Linked DNA regions of Homo sapiens. The protein of the gene in region 1 interacts with the protein of each later gene in a pairwise test. Each region holds a gene or a part of one and is shown on either strand. Other genes may lie near its edges. The genes, in order: BICDL2 and API5.

Region 1 (15,286 bases):
CAAAAGCAAGGGAGAGTGAGGGAGGAAGCGTGAGCAAGACCCAGAGATTTAGAGGGAAGGTTCCGAGCAGACAGGACGCGTGGGCCCGGGGCAAGGGTTGGGGTGGGGGGATCTCTGATGACCACTCACCTCCAGCTGCTGCCGGGGCTTCTGGACCTGAGGTCGCAAGCGCCGTTTTTGGCGCCTGAGTCTGGCAGAGTTCAAGCCCCGGCCCATGGCAGCACACACCTGCTGTGTCCCAGGGGCTCTGGAGGCCTGGACTCTGCCCAGCCCCCTCCCCAGCTCCTCCTAGCCAGTTCCCTCTAATTAACCCTGGTCAGCCCCGCCCTGGCCCAAAAACCTGTCTGACCAGCGGGGGAATGCCCTGGCACACCCAGATGCCCAGCGTGGGGAGGCAGATGAATCGGGGGTTAACCTCTGGCCCACTCTCTCTAGGCCCTCAAAGCGGGATGGGCCTGGATGAAGGTGACAATTGCCACAGCTGCTGCAGCGACTCGCAGGTACCCTGCATTAGGGCTCTATCTGCATTGCTTCATTTCATCCACTAGAGGGAGAATCACTAACGTCCTGGGTTTACAGATGGAACAAGCTCAAGAGTTGCTAAGTGCCTTGCCTAAGGACACACAGTCATTTATTGTTGTTTTTATTTTTTATTTATTTATTTATTTTGAGACAGATCTTTACTCTTTGGCCCAGGCTAGAGCGCAGTGGCACTATCTCAGCTCACGGCAATGTCCGCCTCCCAAGTTCAAGAGATTCTCCTGCCTCAGCCTCCCAAGTAGCTAAGATTACTGGCGTGCGCCACCCTGCCCGGCAAATTTTTTTGTTTTCTTAGGAGAGACGGGGTTTCACCATGTTGGCCAGGCTGGTCCTGAACTCCTGGCCTTAAGCGATCCACCCTCCTCGGCCTCCCAAAGTGCTGGGATTACAGGCATGAGACACCGTGCCCAGCCGACACACAATAACTTCACAAAGCAGGGATGCCAACTCAGGCAGCAGAACTCTTAACCGAATACTGCAGAGGCAACACAGCTTCAGGATTAAGCTGTCAGGTTCAAGGTCAGATTGTCCTGGCTGATGCTCGGCTCTGCTGATGCCTTGTGGCCTGGACACAATATCTCTAAGTCTATCCACCCACACTGCTATCAATCCTCCCACATTTCCTGAGCTCCACTTGTTCTGGGGTCTGCTGTCAGTGGCACGTGAGACCACCAAGTTCACTGCTTCAAGCAGCTTAGAGTCCAGAGGGCATGGACACATGCCGGAGCCAGGTAGTTTCAGGGAGACAGTAAGGGCTGTAAAGAGACCCGGGAAATGATAGAGAGTAAGGAGTGGGGTGGGGGTGGAGGGTCCTTCAAGGAGGACGTCATGTTTGAGTCGACTTCTGCAGGACAAGAAGAGCCACCAGAAAGAAGGCTAGGCATTAAGGAACAGCAAGTGCAAAGTTCCTGAGGGAACAAGCGTGAGTTCTTGGAGGAAATGAAAAGAGCCCTCATTGTCGGGGAGAGGGTGGTTCGGCTGCCCTTCTTGGAGGAGGGGAGAAAGGGGTGGTGCTGCTGTGATGAGGTCGGGGAGGAGCCCAGTTCTCTGGGACTTTTAGGCCCTGGGGAAGGGTTTTGGTTTCATTCTAAGTGTGAGGGGGAGATTCTGGTTGAGGAGTGAAATGATCTGATTTGCAGTTTTTGAAAGTCCTGGGCTGTCCCTTAGAGAACGGGCTCCAGGGGTCAAAGGTGGAAGCTGGGGGCTGGGCACGGTGGCTCACACCTATAATCCCAGCACTTTGGGAGGCTGAGGCAAGTGGATCGCCTGAGGTCAGGAGTTCAAGACCAGCCTGGCCAATATGGTGAAACCCCGTCTCTACTAAAAATACAAAAATTAGCTGGGCTTGGTGGCGCACACCTGGAATCCCAGCTACTTGGGAGGCTGAGGTGAGAGAATCACTTGAACCCAGGAAGCAGAGGCTGCAGTGAGCCAAGATCGCACCACTGCACTCCAGCCTGGGCGACAGAGCGAGACTCCATGTAAATAACAACAATAATAAAAGAGTGGAAGCTGGGGACTCAGGAGAAGGTGGCTGGAGTGTCTGTGGCAGAAGGGATGGAGGCTGTGATCTGTGATCAGCTTGGAGGCTGCAGAGCCGACCAGTGGGTGGTTGGAGTTTAGAAGAATCAAAAGGGCTTGCGGATATTGGGGGGAATTTGTTCACTCAAGAAAGGTTGGCTGAGCGCATTGACTCACACCTGTAATCCCAACACTTTGGGAGGCTGAGGCAGGCAGTTTGGTTGAGCCCAGGAGTTTGAGACCAGCCTGGGCAACATGGTGAGACCTCATCTCTACAAAAAATGCAAAAATTAGCCAGGTATGGTGGTGCATGTGTGCCTGTAGTCCCAACTACTCAGGAGGCTGAGATGGGAGGATTGCTTGAGCTCGTGAAGTTGAGGTTCCAGTGAGCTATGATTGCACCACTGCACACTATAGCCTGGGTGACAGAGGGAGACCCTGTCTCCAAAAAAAGAAAAAAAAAATAGAGAAAGAGTCCAAGGAGGTGCACAGGCTCTGGTCCTCAAGGTTGGGAAGGCGAGGATGGGGACAGCAGGTGATGGGGGCATGGAATCGAGTGCGTGGAATCAAGTGCCACTTGTGTTGAGATGCCCACTAGGTGGCCTGGTGGAGAGGGTTAGCTACCCAGGTCAGGCTCAGGGCAGTGGTTGGGGCCGACGCAGCAGATAAAGGAGGGTGTTCAGGAGACCAGATGTGAGCCCCAGAGCAAGAAGTGGGCCAAAAATAGAACCTGGGCAGAGGGAACTGTTCCTACCTCATTGGGCTGGGCAAGAATCAATGGAGAGTCATGGAAAGCACTCAGCCCAGTGCCAGGCAAGGAGTGGACACCCATGACTGTCGCCTGGTGTTCCGCTATACTGCTGAGGAGCTGGACCCAAGATCCAGAGAGGGCCAGCAGCTGACCCAGGGTCACACAGCTGGACGAGGGTCTGAACCCAGTTTGTTTTTGTTTTTTGAGATGCAGTCTCGCTCTGTCACCCAGGCTGGAGTGCAGTGGCATGATCTTGGCTCATAGCAACCTCTGCCTCCCAGGTTCAAGTGATTCTCCTGCCTCAGTCTCCCAATTAGCTGGGACTACAGGCACACCCCATCATGCCTGGCTAATTTTTTTTGTATTTTTAGTAGAGACGGGGTTTCACCATGTTGGCCAGGCTGGTCTTGAAGTCCCGACCTCAAGTGATCCAGCCACCTCAGCCTCCCAAAGTGCTGGGATTACAGGTGTGAGCCACCATGCCTGGCCTGAATCCAGGTCTTAATCCTCAGAGTTCATGCCTTTTTTCCTTTCCTTTCCTTTCCTTTTTTTCTTTTCTTTCTCTCTCCTTCCTTCCTTCCTTCCTTCCTTCCTTCCTTCCCCTTCCTTCCTTCCTTCCTTTTTTTTTTTTCAGGATCTCACTCTGTTGCTCAAGCTGTAGTGCAGTGGATCATAGAATCATAGCTTACTGCAGCCTCAAACTCTAAAATTCCTGGGCTCAATTGATCCCCCTGCCTCGGCCTCCTGAGTAGCTGAGACTACAGGTGCCACCACCACATCCAGCTAATTTTCTTATTTTTTGTAGAGACAGAGTCTCACTACGTTGCCCAGGCTGTTCTCCAACACTGGGCTAGTGATCTTCCTGCCTTGGCCTCCCAAAGTGCTGGGATTACAGGTGTGAGGTACTGTGCCCGGCACCCAGAGTTCATGTTCTTTGCCACTGGGCAACACTGCCAGGGGGACTGGGCCCAGCTCTGACCTGTTCCAAAGTGCCCCCCTCGCCCGGCTGTCCTCCCCAGCTCCTCTCTCCTTCCCTTGCCTGACTCCCTTCCCTTGTCCTCTCCAGGCCCACCCGTCCTCCCCTGCCCACCCACCCACCCACCCCGTCCAGTGCTAGCTCACTTCCTCACGCTCCAAGTGCTGGGCGCTCAGCGTCTCCAGCTGCCGCCGCAGCTCTTCATTTCGCTCCAGAAGCATCTTGCCGAGCTCCGCGGCCAACAGCAGGTCTTTCTCCTTCTGCTGCAGCTGCAAGGCTAGGTCCTCGGGCTCCTCAGGCCCTGGGCCCCCTCCCAGGAATGAGTCCCGCCGCTCCAGCACAAAGGGGAAGAAGCCCTCGTCGCCGCTGGGAGAGGCGCCCCCTGAGAGCGGCCCGGACGGGAAGCTGGGCCCATCTGGAGAGCTCATGTCACCTGCAGCATCTGCGGGGACAGGTGGCTGCGGGACACTCTACTCTGCAGCCTGACAGGGGCTCACCCTCCGCCCAGCACCTGGCCCTCCAGGAATTCTCCACCTGCTGCCAGCCTGCCCGGTCCTGCAGCCAGGGCTTCCTGGGCCACAAAGGGTTAATGACCTGTGTTTTGGCTACCCAGTTCCGTTAATGTCCCTGGGGTAAACTGAGGCAGGAAGCAGAAGGAAATGACCTGCCCAGCCTTTGGCCTCTGCCAGACAATCTCTGTCCCCAGGAAAGCTCATTCCAGTGCTCCAGGGCCACAGGCCACCTCTGCTCCCTGTCCCCTCTCTTCCCAGAACCCAGCAGTTTGGCTTGTAGCCCCTCGCCATCTGAGACAGTTCCCAGAACCCAGGTTCTCAGGGACTCAGCAGTTGGAGTTGGGCCCAGCCTCTTCTCTCAGGAATGCAGGACCCTAAGGCTTGGGAACTGAGGTATCTTCGCCCCCAGGAATCCAGCTCCTTCCCCTGCCAGAAGCCCAGATCCCAGCCCCTGACCTCCCGGGTCTCTCGCCCTCATTCTCCTGCTACCTCCTGAGCAGGTGCTTTGACTCCACCCTCCAGACTCAGAGGTCCCCACCTCCAATGTCCCCCACCAAGGATTCCCACCCCAGTCCCCATTTTCCACGGGACTCAGGCATTCATGCCCCCACCCCTCCGGACTCAGGAGCCCTGACCCTCAGCCCCCCAGTTTCCCAGGGCCCTGGCGTGGGGCCCAGGACAGGGCGAGGTAACAGGTTGTGCCGGCCGCCCGGCCGCAGCGCGGCTCGGAGTTTCTGTTTACTTCCCGGTCCGCCCCTGGGGACGGGAGCCCTGGGCTCCCCTAGGGCGGCTCAGGGGCTGGGGTTCAGGGGCTCGGGTCAGAGGGCCCGACACAACAGCTTTACCAGCCCCAGCCCTCCGGGGGCTCACCACCCACTAGGCACACACACCCGTGCTCTCCCTCCTCCTCTCGCCCGGTGTCCATGTGCAGCCCTGCTCGCAGGACGTGAGTGTCACGGTGGTCCCAGCCCAGCCGCCCCCAGGCCGCTCCCGGGGACCTCCCTGACTTGGCCCTCGCGGGCCCCGCTCCCCCGCCCCCCTCCACGCGAGAGACAGGGACCTGGAGACCGCTCCCCCTCCCCTTCCGCACCTAGCTGCCCAGGTGTTGGGGCCTCCAGCCCCAGGCGTCGGAAGCCCAGAGAAGCGGCTGGGCTCACCCCCGACGGCTGAGTTCCTGCCGGCGCCCCCGGTTCCCCGGCGATCCCGGTTCCCCTGCCCCCGCCCCGGCTCCCCCACCTTCTCCGCCGACGCGGCCGGACCAGGCCCTCCCCAGGCTCGAGGGGCCCGGCCCTCGGCGTCCCCCAGGCTCTCACCCGAAGCCGCCGGGCTCCCTCCGAGGTCCCCGCGGTCTCCGGTCCCCTCTTCCGGAGGCGGCTCCAGGTGTGCGGCCAACACAGGTGAAGGGGCGGGGCCGCGGGAGGGGCCGGGGCGCTCCCTGGCTGCCTGAATGGCCGGGCGGGGTCGAGGGAGAGTCGCTTCCACCTGGGTGGGGGGCACTGGCCCAACCTGCTGTGGTTGCAAATGGCCCGGCCAGTTAACTGAGCATCTACTGTTTGCAGATCCTACATTGAGGTAGCCTCCGCTCCTTTCCCGTCACGACTGCCTTGCCCTGTGGGGCAGGAAATTATTAGCAATGACAACAACACCGAATCTGACATCTTAAGCATTCTGCTAAGTAAACTCTTTTTTATTTTTTAGAGATGGGATTTTGCTCTGTCACGCAGGCTGGAGTGCAGTGGCACCATCACTGCAGTCTCGTCCTCCCAGGCTCAAGCGATCCTCCCACCACAGCCTCCCCCGTAGCTGGGACTGCAGGTACATGCCACCATGCCCAGCTAATTTTTGTACTTTTTGTAGGGGTGGGGTTTCACCATGTTGCCCAGGCTGGTCTCAAACTTCTGGATTCAAGCAATCCTCCCGCTTCGGCCTCCCAAAGTGCTGGGATTACAGGCATGAGCCTCTGCTTCTGGTCAAGTAAACTCTTTTATAGGCATAACTTGTTGACCTTTTTTTTTTTTTTTGAGATGGAATTTTACTCTTCTTGCCCAGGCTGGAGTACAGTGGTGCCATCTCAGCTCACAGCAGCCTCCGCTCCCGGGTTCAAGTGATTCTCCTGTCTCAGCCTGGTGAGTAGCGGGTACTATAGGCATGCACCACTACATCCAGCTAATTTTGTATTTTTAGTAGAAATGGTGTTTCAATGTTTTGGCCAGGCTGGTCTCAAACTCCTGACCTCGTGATCCGCCCACCTCAGCCTCCCAAAGTGCTGGGATTACAGAGTGAGCCACCTCCCCGGCTCAACTTGTTGACTTTCATGATGACCTGATGACGAGGAACTGCTGTCATCCCCATCTTACAGATGAGGAAGCTGAGGCTCGGAGGCGGAGGGGGGTCCTCCACCTTGTTTGGGGTCCCCTGGTCAGAACTGGAAGGTGAACAGCACAAGTGTGGCTTTAGGGTCATGCTCTTTACTGATTCCCATGCCGCAGACAAGGACACTGTAGCCCAGGCAGTGAGAGTGACTTGCCCAGAGCCATGCCCGAGTCCGTGTGGCTCCACACCTGGGGTTCTCAGTTCCTCAGTTATGCAGAGCTGGGGACCGTGCTCTTGTCTGGGACAGGGGCTTTGGTGTGGAGATGGGAAGGTCCGGGGCTGGGGACCCAGGGTGGCTTGGGCAGCAGTGATGCCCCATCCATGGCCTTGTGTCTTGTCACGATTTATCTCCAGACTCCAGGGCTCCCTGGGCCTCGTGACAGGGGCTCCTGGCCTGGAGAGCAGGACAGATGGAAGGCTGGGAGCAGTGGCGTGCTGGTAAGCGTTTAACAACAGGCTCCCCGGCTAAAACAATAGCCCTCGCTCGTTGCATTTGCCAATATCCATGATGCAATACCTGCTCCTCGGCTGACTTCCAGCTACTCACCTGGCGTCACGGAGTGCAGAGGTAGAAGGGGCTGTGCACATCAGCTCTGGCTGGCTGGTGTCAGCTGGGTCCGTGCACCTCTGGCTGGGGATCAGGACTCCTGAGTCTTGGGGGACTGGGGGCTACTTACTTGGGTTCTAGAAAAATAGGAGGAGGGTGGGGGCTGGGACTCCTGGCTTGTGGGAAAAGGGGAGCAAGGACTCCTTGGAGGGGTGACTTAGGAACTGGGACTCCTGGGTCCTGGGGCTGGGACAGGGTTTTCTGCCAGCAGAGAGTAGGGGAGCCAGAGATTTGTCTTACAGCCACATTGCCCAGCAAGCCTGACACTTTCTCCCACTGCACCTGTGGGAGCAGCCTGGTAGCCACTGGAGGACTGAAGACATCCCAGCCTCCCCTGGGTGCTGCTATGTGACCCTCTGGAAATAGAAGCTCAGTGTCCCCTCCAAATGCCAGTCACCCTGGGCCCCACTCACACCCACACGTAGCACATCTTGAGCGCCTCCTGCCAGGCTGAGCTCATCCCAGGATGAAGTGATTACAGCCCTACTCCCAGAAGGTTCACAGTCCACCTGGGCCATGGGAGGGAGCGTAGACCTATAAACCAGAAATGAACCAATAAAACAGTACAGCAAAGTGCTTGGCCCATGGGTGCTGGCATCACATAGCTTCGGTCCAGGATCCAGTTGGCCACATACCAGATGTGGGTGCCTATGCCCTTCAGCTGATTAACCTCTGCGGCCCTCAGTTTCCCCATCTGTAAAATGGGGATGATAGTTCCTAGCTTATAGGGATGTGAGGATTTTTTTTGAGATGGAGTCTCGCTCTCTCCCCCAGGCTGGAGTGCGGTGGTGAGATCTCGCCTCACCGCAACCTCTGCCTCCCGGTTTCAAGCGATTCTCCTGCCTCAGCCTCCTAAGTAGCTGGGATTACAGGCGTGTGCCACCACACCTGGCTAATTTTTGTATTTTTAGTAGAGACAGGGTTTCACTGTGTTGCCCAGGATGGTCTTCAACTGACCTCAGGTGATCTGCCCGCCTCAGCCTCCCAGAGTGCTGGGATTACTGGTGTGAGCCACCGTGCCTGGCCAGGTGTGAGGATTAAATGAGTGTGAAGTGCCAGCACTTAGTCCTTGCTGGTGATCTCCGCGCGGCCACCAGAGATGACTCACCTGCATGTCATACTCTATTTCATCCTCAGAGCAACCCTATGAGGTCACGCCATTCACAGGTGAGGAGCCCAGCTCAGAGAGGCTAAGTCATTTGTCTGTGGGTACATAGCAGAGCCTTCATCCCAGCTTGCCTAGCTCTCAGCCTCAATCACTCTTGGGAAATTTGTGTTGTTTTTGTTTTTTTCGGAGATAGGGTCTCACTCTGTCACCCAGGTTGAAGTACAGTGGCATGATCATAGCTTACAGCAGCCTCGAACTCTTGGGCTCAAGCGATCCTCCTGCCTCAGCCTCCTGAGTGACTGGGACAACAGGCAGATGCCATCATGCCCTGCTAACTTTTTTATTTTTTGTTTGTTTGTTTGTTTTTTTGAGACAGAGTCTCGCTGTGTCACCCAGGCTGGAGGGCAGTGGCACGATCTTGGCTCACTGCAAGCTCTGCCTCCCGGGTTCACGCCATTTTCCTGCCTCAGCCTCCCGTGTAGCTGGGACTACAGGTGCCTGCCACCACGCCCGGCCAATTTTTTGTATTTTTAGTAGAGATGGGGTTTCATCGTGTTAGGCAGGATGGTCTCGATCTCCCAACCTCATGATCTGCCCGCCTCGGCCTCCCAAAGTGCTGGGATTACAGGCGTGACCCACCACGCCCAGCCTAACTTTTTTATTTTTTGTAGAGATGCGGTCTTGCTACGTTGCCTAGGCTGGTCTCGACTTCTGGCCTCAAGCAATCCTCCTGCCTTGGCCTCCCAAAGCGCTGGGATCTGAGGCATGAGCCAGTGTGCCTGGCTTTGAATATTTGAATCTGGTCCTCAGTCTCCTCTGGACCCAGGAGTCCTGGCCTCCATCTCCCTGTTGGGTCTAAGAGTCCTGGCCACCCAGCATGCAGGGGACCTCAGCCCTCCCCTCACCCCCAGGCTCCCTGCCGATCCCAGGAGAAAAATGAGTAGGAGGGACAGAGTGACCTCAGGGAAGGCCCGGGGAGGCTGGGACATGTCTGGTTAAGAAGGAAGGGATTGGCCGGGCACGGTGGTTCATGCCTGTAATCCCAGCACTTTGGGAGGCTGAGGTGGGTGGATCACGAGGTCAGGAGCTCAAGACCAGCCTGGACAAAATGCTGAAACCCCATCTCTACTAAAAATACAAAAATTGGCTGGGCGCAGTGGCTCATGCCTGTAATCCCAGCACTTTGGGAGACCGAGGCAGGTGGATCACGAGGTCAGGAGATTGAGACCATCCTGGCTAACATGGTGAAACCCCGTCTCTACTAAAAATACAAAAAATTAGCCGTGTGTGGTGGCGGGCGCCTGTAGTCCCAGCTACTCAGGAGGCTGAGGCATGAGAATCGCTTGAACCTGGGAGACGGAGGTTGCAGTGAGCCAAGACTGCACCATTGCACTCCAGCCTGGGAGACAGGGTGAGACTCCATCTCAAAACAAAAACAAAAACAAAAGACAAAACAAAACAAAATACAAAAATTAGCCGGGCGTGGTGGCACGCGCCTGTAATCACAACTACTTGAGAAGCTGAGGCAGGAGAATCAGTTGAACCCGGGCAGCAGAGGTTGAAGTGAGCTGAGATCGCACCACTGCACTCCAACCTGGGTGACAGAGCAAGACTCCATTTCAAAAAAGAAAAAAAAGAAGGGAAGGATGATCACCCAGCCTCACCTGCTCTCCAGCCCAAACAAGCCAGCTTCCAGGGTGCTTAGTTTGGTATGCCCTCCCCGCCTTTCCATCCACCCGCTGAGCCCTGGGGGGTTCTGAGTCTTGGTTGGGAGTTGAGGAGGGGTCTCATCCCTGGGGAAGCCTTGTCAGACCTCACAATGCCGTGGGAGTCTATGCTAGGCATCCAGAGGCCAGCAGAACCCCACTCTCCTCTTGCCCTTCCCCAGAAGCAGTCTGGTAGAAATAACTTGGGTCCAGACCCAGGTGCCTCCAGGCTTTTATGACGTATGCTAAGTCCATGAACAGTAGGTAGTATTGTTTGGAGCATTTAAAACCTTTATATATAATATTTCACACTGAATTCATTGTTCTGCAACTTGTTTTTTTGATGTATGCTTATGTTTCCAAGTGTTTTCTCCCACTTATTAAAAAAAAAAAAAATCAGGGCAGGCACGGTGGCTCATGCCTGTAATCCCAGCACTTTGGGAGGCCGAGGAGGTGGGTGGATCATGGGGTCAGGAGTTCAAGACCAGCCTGGCCAAGACGGTGAAACGCCCTCTCTACTAAAAATACAAAAAATTAGCTGGGCGTGGTGGCAGATGCCTGTAATCCCAGCTACTTGGGAGGCCGAGTCAGGAGAATCGCTTGAACCTGGGAGACAGAGGTTGCAGTGTGCTGAGAATGTGCCACTGCACTCCAGCCTGGGTGACAGAACAAGAGTCTGTCTCAGAAAAAAAAAAAAAATCAGCTTTGGCTGAGCACAGTGGCTCACGCCTGTAATCCCAACACTTTGGGAGGCTGAGACGGGCAGATAACTTGAGGCCAGAAGTTTGAGACCAGCCTGGGCAACATGGCAAAACCCCGTTTCTACAAACAATACAAAAATTAGCAGGCCATAGTGCTGTGTGCCTATAGTCCCAGCTACTCACAGGGCTAAGGCAGGAGGATCACTTTAGTCCAGGAAGTGGAGGCTGCAGTGAGCTGAGATTGGGCCACTGTACTCCAGCCTGGGTGACAGAGCAAGGCCCTATCTCAAAAAAAAAAAAAAAAAAAAAAAAAATTCAGCTTTATTGAGGTAGGTATTAGCTTCCTAGGGCTGATGTATGTAACAAAACATCCACCAGCACGGGAAACAGAGCAAGACCCCATCTCTACAAACATAAAGAATAATTAGTGGCACATGCCTGCAGTCCCGGCTGCTTGGGAGGCTGAGGTGGGAGGATCCCTTGAGCCCAGGAGGTCAAGGCTGCAGTGAGCCATGATTGCATCACTGCACTCCAGCCTGGATGAGAGAGCGAGACCCTGTCTCAAACAAAGAAAGAGAACCAAAAAAACCACAAACTGGGTTTACACAACAGAAAAATTATTGTATTACAGTTCTGGAGGCCAGAAGCCTGAAGTGAGGGTTGGTTCCTTCTGGAGGCTCTGAGGGTGAATCTACTCCATGCCTCTCCCTGGGCCATGGTGACTATAGATGCTCCTTGGTGTTCTGTGTCTTGTGGCCACATCAGTCCAGTCACTGCCTCTGCTTTCACGTGACCTGCCCCTCTAGGTCTTCTTAGTCTATGACTGAAATTTCCCTCTTTTATAAAGATGCCAGCCATTGAATTTAGGGCCCACCCTAAATCTAGGATGATCTCATCTTGAGATCTTTAGCTTATGTCTGCAAAGACCCATTTTTCTTTTTTCTTTTCTTTCTTTGAGACAGAGTCTCGCTCTGTCGCCCAGGCTGGAGGGCAGTGGCACGATCTCAGCTCACAGTAACCTCTGCCTCCCGGGTTCAAGCAATTCTCCTGCCTCAGCTTCCCAAGTAGCCGGGACCACAGGTGCGAGCCACCACACCCAGCTAATTTTTGTATTTTTAGTACAGATGGGGTTTCACCATGTTTGCCAGACTGGTCTCGATCTCCTGACCTCGTGATCTGCCCGCCTCGGCCTCCCAAAGTGCTGGGATTACAGGCGTGAGCCACCGCGCCCGGCCAGCTTATGTATTTTTAAGACAGGGTCTCACTCTGTCACTTGGCTGGAATGCAGTGGTGCAGTACCAGCTCACTGCTGCCTCACTGTCCCTGGCACAGGTGATCCTCCCGCCTCAGTCTACCAAGTAGCTGGCACTATAGGTGTGCACCACCACTCCCAGCTAATTTGTGTATTTTTTGTAGAGACAGGGTCTCACTATATTGTCCAGGTTGGTTTCGAACGCCTGGGCTCAAGTGATCTGCCTGTGTTGGCCTCCCAAAGTGCTGGGATTACAGGCATGAACCACCACGCCTGGCCTAAAGCGTAGGCTTTAATTTATACTAGGTAATAAAGTGCCTGACTCCCTTTTTGATGTTTTACAGCTGACAGCTTTAAAGCCCCGTGCCTACCTCTTCTCCTTGTGCCCACATGTGGGCAAGCTGATCTGAAGGCCCTGGTGCCCTCTCCCTCACTCTATAGAGAAATTTAAATTAGGAAAGTCCTGGCTGGTTGGAAGGGACCCTCATCCCACTTTATCCCCTAACCATAATAAAAGCCCCTCCTTGAATTACTTGAACACGGGAGGTGGAGGTTGCAGTGAGCCCAGACTGTGCCACTGCACTCCAGCCTGGGCGACAGAGTGAGACTCCATTAAACACACACACACACACACACACACACACACACACACACACAAAACAACAACAACAAAAAAACCCTCCTTGCTCTCTTAAACCACTTTCAGAGCTGCCTGGGAGCCCACTCTGCTCTCCCAGAAAGCCTCATCGTTGAGTAATCAAACTCTTCTTATTCTCTTGGTGTGTTCGTGGCCTTATTGGTCTCTAATATGAACCAAATTTGGCACATAGGGTAAATCACAAAACATGTTTCTATCTGCAGAGGGTGAATTTCTTTTTATTTATTTATTTTATTTCTATATGAACAAATGCTGCCTCCCCTGCAGAGCATCCGTTTCTTTCTTTCCGTTTTTGGTAGAAATGCGGTCTCAGTATGTTGCCCAGGCTGGGTCTCCCTCAAATTCCAGGCCTCAAAGGATCCTCCTGCCTTGGCCTCCCAAAGTGCTGGGATTACAGGTGTGAGTCACCACACACCTGGCTAGAGCACGAATTTCATCTGGGTCACACCTGGCCAATACTTGGCATTGTCAGACTTTAAAATTTTGCCAATCTGATGACAAACATGGGATCTGTTATGGAGTAAATTGTGCCCTGTCAATATTCTTATGTTGACCATTACAGGAATGGTGGCTCACGCCTGTAATCCTAGCACTTTGGGAGCCTGAGGCAGGAGAAATGGTTGAGCCTAGGAGTTCAAGAAAGCCCTGAGCAACACAGGGAGGCCCCGTCTCTACCAAAAGAAAAGAAAAAGAAAAAAAAAAAAGAAAGAAAGAAAAAACATGGGCATGGTGGCTTGGGCCAGTTGTCCCAGCTACTTGACAGGCTGAGACAGGAGGATTGCTTGAGCCTAGGAGTTCCAGGCTGCGGTGAGCTATGATCATGCTACTGCTGCACTCCAGCCTGGGAGACAGAGCGAGACCCTGGCTCAAAACAAACAAACAAACAAAAAAACCAAAACCAACCAAACAAACAAAAAAAACAAACCAGAGAGAGAAGAAGAATTTGTATGTTAAAGCCCTAACCCCCAGTACCTCAGAATGTGATTATAGTTAGAGATAGAGCTGATAAAAAAGTGACTAACTTAAAATGAGGCTTTTAGGGTGGCCCCGATGATTGACTTCTTACAAGAGGTCAATGACCAGGCGCGGTGGCTCACGCCTGTAATCCCAGAACTTTGGGAGGCCGAGGCCGGCAGATCACGAGGTCAGGAGATGGAGACCATCCTGGCTAACACGGTGAAACCCCGTCTCTACTAAAATACAAAAAAATTAGCCGGGCGTGGTGGCGGGCGCCTGTAGTCCCAGCTACTCGGGAGGCTGAGGCAGGAGAATGGCGTGAACCAGGGAGGCGGAGTTTGCAGTGAGCCGAGATCGCGCCACTGCACTCCAGCCTGGGCGACAGAGCGAGACTCCGTCTCAAAAAAAGCAAAACAAAACAAAACAAAACAAAACAAAAGAGGACGATACTTCTGGGGTGTGCAAGCGCAGGGGGACGGCCGTGTGGGGAAACAGCAAGAGGACGCCCATCTGCCTGCCCAGGAGGAGGCATCCGGAGAAACTAGCCCCTCAGGCACCTTGATCTTGGCCTTCCAGTTTCCAGAACTGTGAGAACGTAAACTTCTGGTTGAGCCTCCCAGTCCTTGGTGTTTTGTTCTGGCGGCCCCAGCGAGCGGGCGCGGGATCGCAGTGTTTGCCTTTGCATCTCCAGCTCCGCATCCTGCTCGCTGTTTATTTTGTGAGCAGCTCCGGCGGCTGCCCCTGAACTGCTCCGAGACTGAGCAGTTTAACTCACACTCGCCCACCCGCCCTCCCCAGGAAGCCTCCCGCCCGCTTCCTCCAGTTCCTTCCCCACCTGTCCGGCCTCCTAGCCCGGTGCTCTCGGCGCGGGAGGAGGCGGCTCGCAGACCCCCAGGTCTCGGCTTCCCGGATCTCCCCCGCCTACTCACTCCCCGGTCCCCGGCTCCCGGCACTGGCAGGCGCTGTGGCTTCCGCGCAGTGGCTGCAGCATTTAAATGTCCGGCACTTAGGGAGAGGGGTGCAGTCGCGGAGCAGCCGCTGCTCCCGGCATCTAGAGGGGCCCAAACCCCCGCGTGCCCAGGCCGAGCCCCGCGCGCAGCCCACGTGGGCTGAGGGACTGAGTATTGGCCCTCGGGCAGCTGCAACCGCGCACAGCTGGAGCTGGCGGGGCGGAGGGCGGGCCGGGACCCCGCGGGGAAGGAGGCTTCCTTCCCAGCCTCCTGCTGCCCGGAAATCCCCCCGGCTCTCAGACAACCTGCCCCACGGGGTCCTGGGGGGAAGGAGAGGGGCGGGATACAGGGATGGGGAGGGCTGGCTGAGCCGAAGGCCCGGGCCGCCCTCCCCCAGGCCGCGCGGCTTCGAGAAAGCAGAAGCGAGCCCTGCCCCGGGGAGTCCCACAGGAGCGGGGATCTGGGAAGAGAAACTTGCGGACGAGGGAGTTAGAGCCGTGGACCCCCGGCCCCCGCCCGGGCGTCCTGCGTCGGAGGAGGGTCTCTGGGTCGGGCAGGGGCCACCTCTTGGCCCGCCCCTTGTCGCTGGACGTCCGAAGATTGGGCCATTTCCCTTGCCGCGCCCTTACCGCATATCGGGGTGCGCCCGGCCCGGCCCGGCCCGCCCCACCCAG
Region 2 (14,964 bases), on another chromosome or scaffold:
ACTAGAGTAATTACACTTCTATCAGAATCACCTCTACAGTCTTTACAGAATTCCTTGGTTTAAATCTATAGATAATGCGTATTCCTATTGCTTGACTCTAAACAAATCTAGATGTAGCAAAGAAAGCAAATAATCTGTGTTCCCTTGACAGGTTAGAATGTAGCTAAAAAATGAGTAAGGTCACATGCACATAGAAGTTGTTTTAAAATAAATCAGTTTAAGTTATAGGAACATAATAAAAATCTAAAATATTTCATTAGGACTGGGATGAAGACTGTTAAATTAGGTGAGATAAGGGAAAATGAAAAACTCCCAACACAAGTCTATATAGTTTGGTATGGAACTAGCAGTTTATGAAATGTGAGCCAGTATTCTTACCTCTTCTGTTTTTAAGGCCTCACCCGTTTTACCCTGGAGAGCTAAGCGAAGTTGTCTGATATAAACTTGCAGGCCCCGTGCAAAGTACTGCAGCCTAAATGAAAATGTATTTGTTAATTAGCAATTCATCACTTCAATTTTGTTTTTAAACTCAATCTTATACTACAGCAAAATGATCCTAAGTGCAGAAATGGTTACATGACCAGTAAATTAAAGAAGAGAATTTTAAGTTGCTTGTTTCTGATTAAGAGCTTCATCAAGTATCAAACTTCTGCCTTACCACACAGTACAGGACAGTAACAGGTAACACATGGCTCAAGCATTTCAAAATTTAAAATGTGAATTTGTTAATGGAACAATTCAATAAGCAGTGTCTTTGTGAAAACTATTTACATTGACTTCTCCAGTGCTGCTTCTCCAGTAACACTAAGGTATTATTAATAACAACAGCTACAGTTTACTAATACCTACTATTTGCCAGGCACCATGCTAAAAGCTGTACATTCATTGTCTTATTAAATTCTTACAACTCTATGAGGTAGGTACTATTATCACTTAACAACTGAGAAAAATTTGGGGGAGCCAAGAGAGGTTAGGGTACCTGCCCAAGATCATAAAACAAGTAGGAAGAGCTAGAGTCCTTTACCCCCCATGGATTTGTTAAGTCATTTCTGTCTTTTAATTTTTTTTAAATTTTACTTTTACTGTTTCTTTTTTCAGAGACATGATCTCATCGCCCAGACAGGAGTGCGGAGGCATGACTGCAGCTGACCGTAACCTCGAGCTCCTGGGCTCAAGTGAGCCTCCCATCTCAGTGTTGCAAGTAGCTGGGACTACTGGTGTGTTACCACACTCCGCTAATTTTTTTAAAGTTATTTTTTATAGAGACAGGATCTTACTATGTTGCCCAGCTGGTCTCAAACTCCTGGTGTCAAGCAACCCTCCTGCCTTGGCCTCCCAAAGTGCTGGGATTACAGACGTGAGCCACCATGCCTGGCTCATTTCTGTCATATGTTTACAAACATGCCCATTTTCTGAACCCTCCAATCTGTATCACTGGGGTAAGGCAGGATGGGGAGCTCTCATAGAACAAAAGCAAAACCCAAGGAACTTCAGGATAGCTACCACCTTTGCCAAGGATTGAGCCACCTCAATCATATATCACCTGATTTTGAAATCTTTGAGCTTTTCTGCATTCAGTTTGGCTGTTAAGAAATCTGGAAGTTTTCGGCCCAACTGGTGAAAACTGTACAACAAACATTCCACATAACTGAACTGTAGCTTGGGTTCTTCATTACCAGCATTCTCTCCATTTTCTGCCTCTTCTGGAGGGAGGGGCATGTATTCCTAAGAGAGAAAAATATACAGATTTTGCAATCTGTTCTACATATTCAAATTATAAACAGATATTCAGGGAATTACAGTGCATGTTTTTAAGGCATGGAGCATTAAAAACTACCAAAACCAGACATTTGGATTTCTTTTTTACTTACTGGATCAATGCTCTAGCCTGTCAACGCTCCATATTAACCTGTTACAGCTGCTGTTACAGCTGCTATTATTAATAATGAAGATTAATGTAGCTATCATTTATTAGGCACTTACAGATAAAGGCACTGATGCTCTGAGAGTTAGGGTAACCTTCCCATGGTAACAAAGTTAATAAACTAAAGAGTCAGAATTCAATCTAGATTTGACATCAAATGCTGATGCTCTTAACAACTATACTATGCTTACTACAAAAATATTTTCTGAACGTAAGTCCATATTGTTTAAGTACTGACTCATTACAAGTGAAGTACTGCCAATGGCATTCAGTATCAGTGCTATAACAACCCAGTAAGTTACATCTGGACGAGTGCCAGATGTTGATGACTCAATTCATGCTAAGGACCTAATGCTTATCACTGTGTTAGTTATACAAATACATCAAATAAGAAAATCACTCAGTGATGCTGATAATGATTTTATCAGATGGCCTATTTTCTCCCTAATTATAAGAAACACCAAGATTAAAACAAAGTAGACAACAACATGTGGCCTAGGAAGCTAACAATACTTATTAGGATTATTGTTTAATTGAAATTTCAAAAACTGGTTCTTGTAATCTAGAAATTAATAATAAATTAGACTTTGAGCTATATACTGACTATCCCATAAGGAAAGGAAAAAGTTCTTACCAATAACTTATCAAATAGTTTCCTTAAATTTGTTTCTAGTTTTTCCATGTCACCACAAAATGAACTCATCTCCGCCAACAATTTCAATACCTAAAACACACAATTCACTATTACTGTTTTTTTGAATAAGCAAGGGTTATGAAATGAGAGTAATTCTAGATAACGATTTAAGACTTTATTTTCAATTATGTTTTCACAGAATCATAACATTTGAAATGGAAGAAAACCTTAGAGATAGATGCAGCCCAACATTTTACTGTGAAGGAAAGTAAAGGTCAGAGATTATGTGACTCGACAAAGTCACAGGGTGTAAGTGGCAGGGCAGACCCTAAAACCCAGATCCCATGATTTCCAATATATCTGTGAGAAGAAGTATGGAAAATAATACATACGACACTTTCTGCTACAGGTTAATGATTGTGCTAATTGCAAGGCAAAAATGATAAATATATTAACTATAAAGACACACTTAGTAAGAACTCTCAACAGCTAAGAACTAATTACTCATGGTTAAGGTGGGCCTCATTTCCTGTTAAATTTAGTCTCTGGATACTTACTCAAAATATTGGTAATGACCACTATTCTCAAGGTTCATTCCTGCATTTCCCAATCCCAGTCTGATGGGCCTAGCCCAGCACATTTGAAGCAAACTACCTTGTCAGTGCACAGTGAGATTCTTCTCTATCCCAAAGACCCATGAGGGAAATGGCACACGCATTTCCATATTTCAGTCCAATTCAATAATCACTATTGGGTGCTTGATTCAAAATCAAGTTTTGTGCCAGATTCTGGGGATACAGAGGTGAATCAGATTAAATGTAGGGAGAGATTATAAACAAATGTAAAGTATTACAGATGCTGTGAAAAAATGTTTACATACATTACAGTTGAGATACAAAGTTGGGAGGGGTAGTGAATTCTATTGAAGAAGGAATAAAGGATATTTTGTGTTAATCCAGTTTAAAATTGGCTCTGTCAGTTATGGATAGAAATGAATGAATTAAACACCTTATTTAAAAATATTAAGGCTACAAAAGTAGAGACTGACTATAATAAAACTACAGGTAAGGCTTTCCCATTGCAGCAAACTTTAATTGAATCCATGAAGCAGTCCTAATGCAATTAATTCTGGTCTAGGGAGATTACTGGCTGGCCATTACCAGACATTTAAACTGCTCCCTTAGAAATCGGATCTAAGTTAGTGGTTTACATTTTTGTTAAAATATAAGAATGCCTTATCAGTGCTAAAGCTGAAATTTTTGCTTACCTCCAACTGTATATCAAGACCTTCCACTGGGGTAGTCAAGGTACCGAGGTTAGGGAGAACCTGCTCACAGAAATATGTCACAAACCTTGTGGAATGGACATTTTTCTGTAAGAAATCCAAAGAAAATGCATTGTCGAAAAACAAATATTCGCTCAAATATTATAGCAGAATTTCATTCAATAAATGCTGAGCGCTACAGCATCAAGTATTCTGACTACAAATACGATATAGTGCACACCCCAGCATGCCCCAGATATAACCTCAATAGGTGATCTACGAAGGGGCTTCAATAAGTTCATGGAAAAATGGAATAAAAAGATAAAGAATAAAAAATATAAACTTTATTTATCAACATAAGCTCCATCAAGGTCAAGACACTTTTGCAGGTAATGATACCAGTCATCTCTGAACAACTGAGGGTCCTGGGAACTTAACCATGTCAATGCAGTCTTTTTTATACTATTAACCAAAGAAATGTGGGTGCCCTTTAAAGATGTTTTTTAAGATTAGGCAACAAAAAGAAATCAGAAGGGCCCAAATAAGGACTTTAAGGTGGATGCCTAATGATTCCTCATCAAAACTCTTAAAAAATTGTCCCTGTTTGATGAGAGGAATGAGCAGGAGCACTGTGGCGGTGGAGAACTCTGGTGATGCTTTCCTAGGCGTTTTCCTGCTCAATCTTTGGCCAACTTTCTCAAAACAAGCTCATAATAAGCAGACATTATTCTTTAGCCCTCCAGAATGTCAACCAGCAAAATGTCTTGAGCATCCCAAAAAACTGCCATAGCCCTTCCTCTTAACTGGTCTCTTTTTGCTTGGACTGGGCCCTTTTCACTTCCTGGCAGCCATTGCTTTGACTGTGTTTTGTCTTCAGAATTGCACTGCTAAAGCCATGTTTCACCTCCTGTTCCCATTCTTCAAAGACATGCTTCAGGATCTTGATCCCACTTGTTTACAATTTCCACTGAAAGCTCTGTTCTTGTCTGCAGCTAATCTGAGTGCAATGGTTTTGACACTCATCAGTAGGAAGTTTGTTAAACTTCAATTTTTCAGTCGGAATTGAATAAGCTGAACCAACTGAGATATCGATGATGTTGGCTATTGTTTCTGCTATTAATCATCGGTCTTCTTCATTTAGGGCATAAACAAGATTAAATTTTTCCTCGCAAATTGATCTGCTGCAATGGGCTTTGACGTTGTCTTGTCCCTTCTTAAAATGAGTGATCCATTTGTAAACTGTTGATTTCTTTGGGGACATTGTCTCCATAAACTTTTCATAAAGCATCAATGATTTCACTATTCTTCCACCAAGCTTCACCATAAATTCGATATTTGTTCTTGCTTCAACTTTAGCAGAATTCATGTTGCTCTGATAGGTGCTCTTTTCAAACTGATGTCTGACCCTTCTTAGTTCCTCAAACTATATCCTGTTCAGACATGTTATAAGTACAAGTTTATTTTGGTGAAAAATGTTTTGTAATCCATGCGTAGTTTTTTTTTTTTCTTTCATAATATGCATTTTCCAGGAACTTTTTGAAGACCCCTTATATACTTTACTGCAAAGTCATCTGGAGCATTGGAACATCTATACATTTTGATCTCTTCCTTGATTCTCTGGTCAAATTTGGGGCATGGCCAGGCATGGTGGCTCATGCCTGTAATCCTAGCACTTTGGGAGGCTGAGGCAGGTGGATTGCCTGAACTCAGGAGTGCGAGAGCAGCCTGGGCAACATGGCAAAACCCCATCCCTACTAAAAATACAAAAAATCAGCTGGGTGTGGTGGTGCTTGCCTGTAATCCCAGCTACTCGGGAAGTTGAGGCACGAGAATTGCTTGAATCTGGGAGGTGGAGGTTGCAGTCAGCCAAGATCATGCCACTGCACTCCAGCCTGGGGGATGGAGCGAGACTCTGTCTCATAAATAAATAAATAAATAAATAAATGAATTGTGGACATCTTTTAGTGTTGGATTTTCAGACTGCACATTTCTCAAAAGGGATAATTCTATTACTTAATTTTTTTTGTAGAGACAAGGTCTTGCTCTGTTGCCCAGGCTGGTCTTGAACTCAGCCTCAAGTGATACTCCCACCTTGGCTCACAAAGTGCTGGGATTGGGATTACAGGGACGGGCCACCACGCCTGCTCTAGGATAGTTCCTTTAAATTGTGTTTTTCAAATGAATGTATGCACATCCCAGAAGATGCATGGCCTCAGGAAACACAAAGCCTGAGACAGAATGCAAAATTCTCATGACTTTCAAAAAAAGTCTCTAGGAAGACTTAAAAAAAATTTATTGGCCACTCATGGTGGCTCACACCTGTAATCCCAGCACTTTGGGAGGCCAAGGTGGGCAGACTGCTTCAGCTCAGGAGTTCAAGACTAGTATGGGCAACATGGGGAAGCCCCGTCTCTACAAAAAACACAAAAATTAGCCGAGTGTGATAGTGCATGACTGTAGTAGCAGCTACTTGGGAGGCTGAGATGGAAGGAAGGCTTGAGCCTGGGAGGTAGAAGCTGCAGTAAGCCAAGATCGTGCCACTGCACTCCAGCATGAGTGACAGGGCAAGACTCTGTCTCAAAGGAAAAAAAAAATTCTTTCTTTCAAGAAAGTTTCTTGCTGCTTTGGGTTCTCACCAACACCACTGTGGCCTTCATAAACACAGACCAAGCATCCCTCATCTGAAAATCCCAAATCTGAAATGCTTCAAAATCCAAAACTTTTTGAGCACCAATGTGATGCTCAAACATCACGCTCAAAGGAAATGCTCATTAAAGCATTTCAGGTTTTGGATTTTTGAATTAGGGATGCTCAACCAGGCACAATGCAAATATTCAAAAATCTGAATACACTTCTGGTTCCAAGCAAGCATTTCAGATAAGGGACACTACTGGAAAGGTTTAAGGGGAATGTTAAAGTGAGTATTTATGGAAATATATATATAGCTAATACCGGGTGTGTAAAAATAAAGAGCTCACAGAGAAGAGGGGTACTGCCTGCCGAGTGCACTGTAAGAGCCTGTCCACACAGTCAGGATCCGAGGGATTGAAGGTCTGTTCTAGGTCGGCCTGTTCAGCCACCAACTCTACAAGTTGCTGTCTTCCACTCACTGTCTGTAAGCTTTTTAACCCAGACAGTATCTTCATAAATAGAACAAATTCTTCACCAGTCACATCTTCTAGGACCTGGAAAAGAGACAATTCAGAATAAGAGTATGTTCATCATTTGAATGGGACAGATCAACACTGAAAGAGAATAGCTAATTTATTTCAGTTACTAAAGTCAGTTTGTTATTAATGCTTCCAAAATACTGACGAAAAGGCAACTTCTAGCTTCAGTCAATTGAGCTTCAGTGTAAACCACGCATTCTCCAAGGGGGCAAAAATTGGTTCTTAGAAAATGTTACTTTTTTACGTACAAAGCACAGATATACATGTAGTACCATAAACAGATATACAGTGTATATGTGGCATTAAAATTTCATGGGAGAGCAGTTAAGAAAAAAAAAAAATTAAAAAAATTGGCTATTTAGGGGAGTGACTTTAAAAAATGGTTGGAAAAATTCTGTAGCAAACTGTTGAATCAGATTGTATCCTATATTTAAAAGCAGCCTAATTCATATTAATATGGTAATTGTTGTATACAAAATAGGTCACCTTGCAAGTCTCATGTTAAATCTTCCATATCAGTGGGTCTAAATCTTTCTATTCATGGACCAAAAAAGCTCACAATCACGACATACTCTACCAGATTACAAGCTGGGGCATAGGTAAAATAGTCTGATACTCCCAGCTAAAGATCTACTTTTTTCTCACTGAAAAATAATCTTATCAATAAGGAAGTGGGTAGTAGTAGTCTGAAATTTCTAAAGCCTGAACCATAACAGTGATCACATGCTTTAGATAAAATGCTGAATCTTCTGTAACATATTAAAAAAGTAAACTATTCCCAAACTTTGGCACATTAAGATGAGTGAAAAGTTAATTGTGACGCACCTTGCCAATCTTAGCGTCTACAACTATGCTAGATGCTGGGAGCAAAGACAAGCATGGTCTCACCCTTGAAGAGCAGATAGTGTCAAGGGCTAAGGTGACAACAGGTCATTTTGATGTGATGTTTCATTTTGAAATAATTTAGAATACTATGAGAGAGTATCCTAAAATGGAAGGGAGGGGTAGGACTTAGGGAAAGTTTCCTGAAGGAGGTGATTTGCAGAGGTTGCACAAATTTTAAGGACACTACCACGAAAAGTTTAAATGTAATCAGATTCCTTTAAATTACCAAATTGATTCATCATTACCACCGACAAAAGTGCTAAATTCAATCTAAGAAAAACTTAGAAGTTCTATGGTGGTTCCAATGGGATATATGATATATCATTTTATACACAAGCCACACATAACATTGACGAATACTGCCAATGTCAAGTATGCTCTTTTGCTTTAGAGAATTTCCACCAAATGAAGACCAAAGCTCACCTTTTTGGATTCAGTTAGTATAAGCTCTTCCACTTCCTTTGTTAAGACTTCATCTGGTAAAGTCTTAAGTTTTGTAGAAAGGAATTTAATTGCTCGTTCTCTAACAATGTCCTCTCCTTGAAGTATTTGGCTGAACAACCCACCTAAAGTCCCTGCAAAACAAAATAGTTGCCTGTAGCAAGTCAATTCTATAGTGTAATGGTGTTTTCCCATTTAACTCAATTTATAGTATTTCTTCTCAAATAAGTTAATGAACTTCCCAAATATCATCCTCATTACTAGTTAAAAGTAGTCTGAAATTTCTACAGCCTGAACCATAAGAGTGCTTTCTTCATGAAGACATAGTCAGCTTAAGCATGACTTTCCTTTTTTATCATTACTAATAATAAAACCCAGGTATTTTGGAAGAATTTCTTGAAAGTGTCAAAAGGAGTTCTTCCAACAGATTTCTAATGGAAAAACGTGATCTGTTTTTGCAGTTATTTCTGCTCGTTTTTCTAGTCATAAACATCTTGACCTAAGGAGACTTTTTTCACAATACTTAGAATTTTTATGAAATAGAACTCTGGGTAAACCCTAGAGTTTATTCTTAATGAGTAACACCTAACTTTGTGATTCTGTAAGACATCAAACACAATTCAGAATAAGAACTGGCCTTACCTTTTGCATCCATTTTAAATATACTTAATAGGGCATTGTTCACTAGGTTAAATTCTGCAGAGTCATCTGGATAAAGAAAAAGTGGCATAATGAATATAAAACAAATTTAAAATATCATCTGCTTCAGTTTCAAACTTGATTCAACTTAGTTTCTCAAGGTTACATTGACAGGAAACTTATAACTTAAGCCATTCCCTCAAGTACCAAAAAGATACGTGTTCCTTGTAAGTTGAGAACCCGATCTGGCATGCCTGAAAAACTTTTATTAAGATGCTACAATTATGAAACTACAGGAAATTGGGGGAAAAATTATGATATATCAAAATGCCCAAAAGAATCTAGTCATTACACCTTCATAACGGAATTAAAAACAAAACAACACCAGGAATTAGATAACCAGAAATCATTACACTTTAACTACTGAATGAAAGTAGGAAATTTAATCTCTATCAGAGGTAGGACCTCCAGCTCTCCTGCACCCCATTTAAAACCTAAAAACAGAGTCAACATTTCAGAAAGAAGATATATATTTAGAGAAAAAGGTAATAATAAAATCCCTTACCTGTCTGCAAAAGTTGCGTTAGTATATCTGCCACTCGAGGAAGATTTTCTCCAGTGGCAAATTGAGGCAGTTCTTTAATTGCTTGACGTCGAATCTGGGCATGATTTCAAACAAAAATTAACCAAATACTATCACCTTTAAAATAACAAACAGCTTTTTCTTTTCTTTCTTTTTTTTTTTTTTAAAGACAAGGTATTGCTCTGTTGCCCAGGTTGGAGTGCAGTGGTGCAACCATGGCTCAATGTAGCCTTGACCTTCTAGGCTCAAGAGAGCCTCTTGCCTTAGCCTCCCTAGTAGCTAGGACTATAGACGCAAGCCTCCACGCCTGGCTAATTTTAAAGGCGGATTTCCCTATGTTGCCCAGGCTGTTCTCGAACTACTGGGCTCAAGTGATCTTCCCACCTCAGCCTCCCAAAGTGTTGGGATTACAGGCATGAGTCACCATGCCCAGCTGCAAACTCAACTTTTTAAGAAAACTAAAACCACAGAGAAGCCATCATTAGGGGCATACGAGTCACAAAAATATGAAACAGCAGATTTCTAGCAGTTTTAAAAAGAATTTGCTCCAATTGGCCGGGCGTGGTGGCTCACACCTGTAATCCCAGCACTTTGGGAGGCTGAAGCAGGTGGATCACGAGGTCAGGAGTTTGAGACCAGCCTTGCCAATATGGTGAAACCCTGTCCGTACTAAAAATACAAAAATTAGCCAGGCGTGGTGGCACACGCCTATAGTCCCAGCTACTTGGGAGGCTAAGACAGAAGAATCGCTTGAACCAGGGAGGCGGAGGTTGCAGTGAGCCAAGATTGCACCACCGCACTCCAGCCTGGCCAATAGAGTAAGGCTCCTTCTCAAAAAAAAAAAAAAAAAAAAAGAGAGAATTTGCTCCAATTTAATCTTCAAGTTACACAGAATAAAATATAAAAAGGGATGTTAACAATGTCTCGCTGAAGGAGACAGATTTGAGATTATAAACAACTATTTACATGCTAATTATATGCAACTGTTAGGTTTTTACTACCTATGGGCTTATAATATAGTATTCCTAAAAAATGGCTACTGTGGCAATGTTATACCTAGTAACTGTTTACTTTAGAATTTTCAGTATTGACTACTAAATACAACATTTGTGGCTATATTCTGCATGTTTAATTCCAAATACTGATCTTGGCTTATTCGATTTTTACATAAAATATGTACAGCGGGCCAGATGAGGTGGCTCACGCCTGTAATCCCAATGCTTCAGAAGGCCAAGGTGGGAGGATAGCTTGAGGCCAGGAGTTTGAGACCAGCCTGGACAACATGGCAAGACCCTACAAAAAAATTAAAAATCAGCTGGGAACGGTGGTCTGTGCTGCTTGGGAGGCTAAAGTGGAAAAAAATGCATGAACCCAGGAGTTCAAGGCTGCAGTGAGCTATGGATGTGCAACTGCACTCTGGTCTAGGCAACAGAGTGAAACCCTGTTTCTATTAAAAAAGCAAAAAAAGTATAGGGTTTATATCCAGCAAATTCTGCATGAAATGTTGGCAATTCGCTGTTTCATCTGAAAAGACAAGAGCTAACGGCTGAATATTCTTAGGAACCTGTGTCAGCAGCCAGAAATATTACTGGTTAATTCTGTTCCAAAAAACCCCCCAAAAACCAAAAAACAAAAACTATTTCTTTTTAATCTAGTAATCCTATTCACTTATTACACATACCATTTTTCTGCCATGCAAAATATATAAGGGTAGTGAAACTACATTTTATGATATAACACTTAATAATTTAAATATCCAAGTAAGCACAAATTGATTAAAAACAGTCTAATTTCATATGCACAATGAATAACAATCTATGAAACAAGATGTGAGCCACAACCCATTTTTAACAGTGGATAAATGATAAGCGAAACTAAGTATTTTGAGATTCTATGCATTTTTCATAATTTAAAGGTGTTGAAAAAGGCTAATACACTTTATCATATGTAAATTTAAGCCTGGGTGTGATGCCATGCCAGACCATACCATAGTATTTTATTGTGTACTCTGATATATCAGATTGCTACTCCAATTGTATCAGCCACATACAGAAACATCTGAAAGATTGCTATGAAGTGTCATTCATAAACTTACAGATACATCTTCATCCTCACAGAGGTCTAACTGTGCATTGATAGCAGAATCAGCCAATTCTGGAAAATGCTTAAAGAATTTCGGAATAAATTGAGCTGCTAATCGCTTTTCCTTAGTACCACCTTTCACACCATCCAATATCACTTGATAGGCATCTTTATGCTGAAATAAAAAATAAAGCAGGAAAGACACATGATTTTGAAGGATGGGAAGCAAAGTAAAAGACCATAACAAACATGTTAGAGTGTGCTTTAAATTTTTACACAGGCTAAGAAATAAAGCTGATTTTGGGAGGTTTACTGCTCAAACTGACACTTACCTTCCCAATTCCGTTCTCCCTCCATCTTTGTTTCATTTTTGAGTTGGGGGAGATGGATGAGTCTAATTTTAAGTGGAAAAAGCAAATGTGTTTGTTAATATGCCAATACTTCTTCATTCTAGTGATTATTAACTCTGGCCATGTGACTGTATCATGCTTAAAAAATTTGTAATGGGCCAGGCGTGGTGGCTCACGCCTGTAATCCCAGCACCTTGGGAGGCCAAGGTGGGTGGATCACCTGAGGTCAGGAGTTCAAGACTAGCTTGGCCAACATGGTTAAACCCCGTCTCTACTAAAACACAAAAATTAGCCAGGCGTGGTGGTGTGCGCCTGTAATCCCGGCTACTCGGGAGGCTGAGGCAGGAGAATTGCTTGAGTCCGGGAAGCGGAGGTTGCAGTGAGCTGAGATCGTACTACTGCACTCCAGCCTGGATGACAGAGTGAGACTCTGTCTCCAAAAAACAAAACAAAACAAAACAAACAAACAAACAAAACAATTGTAATGATGGCCAGGTGTGGTGGCTCATGCCTGTAATCTCAACACTTTGGGAGGCCGAGGTGGGCAATCACTTGAGCTCAGGAGTTCCAGACCAGCCTGCCCAACATGGTGAAACTCCCTCTCTCTAAAAATACAAAAATTAACTGGGTGTGGTGGCAGACATTTGTAATCCCAGCTCCTCAGGAGGCTGAGGCAGGAGAATCGCTTGAACCCAGGAGGCAGAGGTTGCACTGAGCTGAGATCGCACCACTGCATTCCAGATTGGGTGACAGAATGAGACTCTATCTTAAACAAGTAAATAAATAAATCATCATGAATACCATAGAATTCACAAAGAATTGCACTGTATTTACTTAAACAAAAATTTACCTGTTTCTAATTAGCACCTTGAAGAAGGTGAAGGGAATACATTCCAGAAATTTAGCAATTCCAGCAATGTTAGGAAGTGCAGTTTAATTTTACCTCATAGCAGTATATGAAAGCCATGACAATTCACTCCATATAGCCAGACAATTTTGGATTAAGACGGACTCTAATGTCACATGTTTAAACCTTTTATTGGAACAATACACTCAAAGCTCATGTTTCCTTAAAAAAAAAAATCACAGGTGCTCTCCCTCAAATACTCATAATGGGAGGAATCAATAAGTTCCCAATCCTCCTTAAGTACTTGCCTCCAAACCAGTCCTTTTATGAAATGACACTGATAAAGATGGTAAATAACAGTAACAAATACAGAAAGACTACACATATATATTGTTTGGACATATGAATAAAACTTAGTAACTGGAAAAACAACTTAAAAATTATAATCTTGACCAAACATATACACAGTATAGTATTTATTATGTATAAGGAGTGTTCTAAGTGCTTTAGACACATGAGCTTACTTCATGCCATCAAGCGGGGAATGACCAATAAATATCCAATGAACTACAGAATTACCAAATTTATTTTACAGTGATTCTTTTTTGTTGATAATGCTATGTTAAGTGAAAAAATAAAGCAGGATGCAAAGTTACAGAACAACTCCCAAATAACAGAAATTTCTGTGAATAAGGTTAACTTCTTCATGAAATGCAGATATATGAGTCTTCAGGAGTCATCACTGAAAAGTGTATTATAAACACATCAAGACCCTGTCTCTCCAAAAAATATAAAATTAACCAGGCATGGTGGTGTGTGCTTGCAGTCCCAGCTACTGGAGAGGCTGAGGGAGGAGAATCACTTGAGCCCAGGCGATAAAGGCTGTGGTAAGCCATGGTCGCGCCCAGGAGTTAGAGGCTGTGGTAAGCTGTGGTCGCGCCACTGCACTCCAGCCTGACAGAGCAAGACCCTGTCTCAAAGAAAGAAAGGTATATGACATACTTTTCACCGCAAACATTAAAAAAAGAAATCATGCTGACTTCTCTACCACTTTACATTCCTGTGGTTTGCCTCAGACTTCTAGGCAGGCTTCATAAAATCAAAGTTTGTTCTGACACCCTTACTTTTTGCAGGGTATCACAAATCTAATTTTCTTTAACTCAAACTTACTCATAAAGCCATTTGAAGAAACTCCTTACACTGTCCAAAATTAAATGAAAAAAAAAAAACCCTGCTTAAAACAAAACTTCCTTTTGCCAAGAAAAAAATATTAAATCTGGAATCAAATAAAAAGGAATCATTAACAATATTTATTGAAGGTCTACCAGGGACTGAGTGATTCCTTGTCTATATCACAATAGGTGTTACTACTATTCTTATCTTTTAGATGAGGAAACTAGGGCTCAGAGAAGTGAAATAAATATTTCCACATATTTTTGAGGGATTACGAACTTGGTTGGTCAGTGGTTTTAGCTTAATCATACAAAAAACCCTACTACAAGAGTGGTTATTTCATGAAATAAAAGTCCAAGAAGCCTACACGCCAACCCTGCAAAGCTAGTATACTCAATGATTGAGAGAACAGGAGGAATCAGGGTTTCAGCATTATACAGATCTAATCAGCCCCACTGCCATGGTCCTTTAACAGGTGTCGGATACATTTTTTAACTTTTAAGATTTTGACTACATAATATAAAATTAAGTATCTATATTTAAAGTAAGTAAATTCATAATAATTTGAAACAGAATTTTAAATAATGGTGGGCCACAGCTTGCTCTATTATGGCTAGTCAGGAGCCCTGGGCAGAGTACAGTGGAAAAGGAGATCAGAAAGGTAAAGGAGCACACAAGAGAAGAGTGAGACCTGAAGGAGTAGCAGAGGCAGAGTGGGGGAAAGGCAGGATGAACGCATAGGCAGAACATGGCAGTTACATGAGAAGATGATAGGACTGGAAGATTTGAGGTATTAAATAATTCTGCACTTAGAATTTGTCATCTGCAGTTTGCTTATTAGAATATACATGCTCATATATGTATGTATGTGTGTGTGTATGATAAAGTTCCCTTTATCCATTAGAGATAATCTGTGTAAATGGTTTTTCTTTTCTTTTGTAAATGGTTTCTCTGTTCCTTCTTCCAATACAT

What was found.
Region 2: the proteins of BICDL2 (region 1) and API5 interact in binary tests that used the Homo sapiens proteins (3 or more experiments, as listed by UniProt).

What each region holds. Positions count from the first base shown.
Region 1 is NC_000016.10:3,031,281-3,046,566, forward strand, and holds the start of BICDL2 (BICD family-like cargo adapter 2), read right to left. Parts: upstream 5,665-15,286; 5' UTR 5,614-5,664; exon of another isoform or gene 4,247-5,613; 5' UTR 4,217-4,246; coding exon 3,935-4,216; intron 3,715-3,934; exon of another isoform or gene 3,618-3,714; intron 1,814-3,617; exon of another isoform or gene 217-1,813; coding exon of another isoform or gene 130-216; intron 1-129.
Region 2 is NC_000011.10:43,315,473-43,330,436, reverse strand, and holds part of API5 (apoptosis inhibitor 5), read right to left. Parts: intron 12,017-14,964; exon of another isoform or gene 11,955-12,016; intron 11,798-11,954; coding exon 11,636-11,797; intron 9,617-11,635; coding exon 9,523-9,616; intron 9,027-9,522; coding exon 8,961-9,026; intron 8,453-8,960; coding exon 8,301-8,452; intron 7,008-8,300; coding exon 6,801-7,007; intron 3,931-6,800; coding exon 3,826-3,930; intron 2,649-3,825; coding exon 2,559-2,648; intron 1,726-2,558; coding exon 1,544-1,725; intron 473-1,543; coding exon 379-472; intron 1-378. UniProt on the Homo sapiens protein: Antiapoptotic factor that may have a role in protein assembly. Negatively regulates ACIN1. By binding to ACIN1, it suppresses ACIN1 cleavage from CASP3 and ACIN1-mediated DNA fragmentation. Also known to efficiently suppress E2F1-induced apoptosis.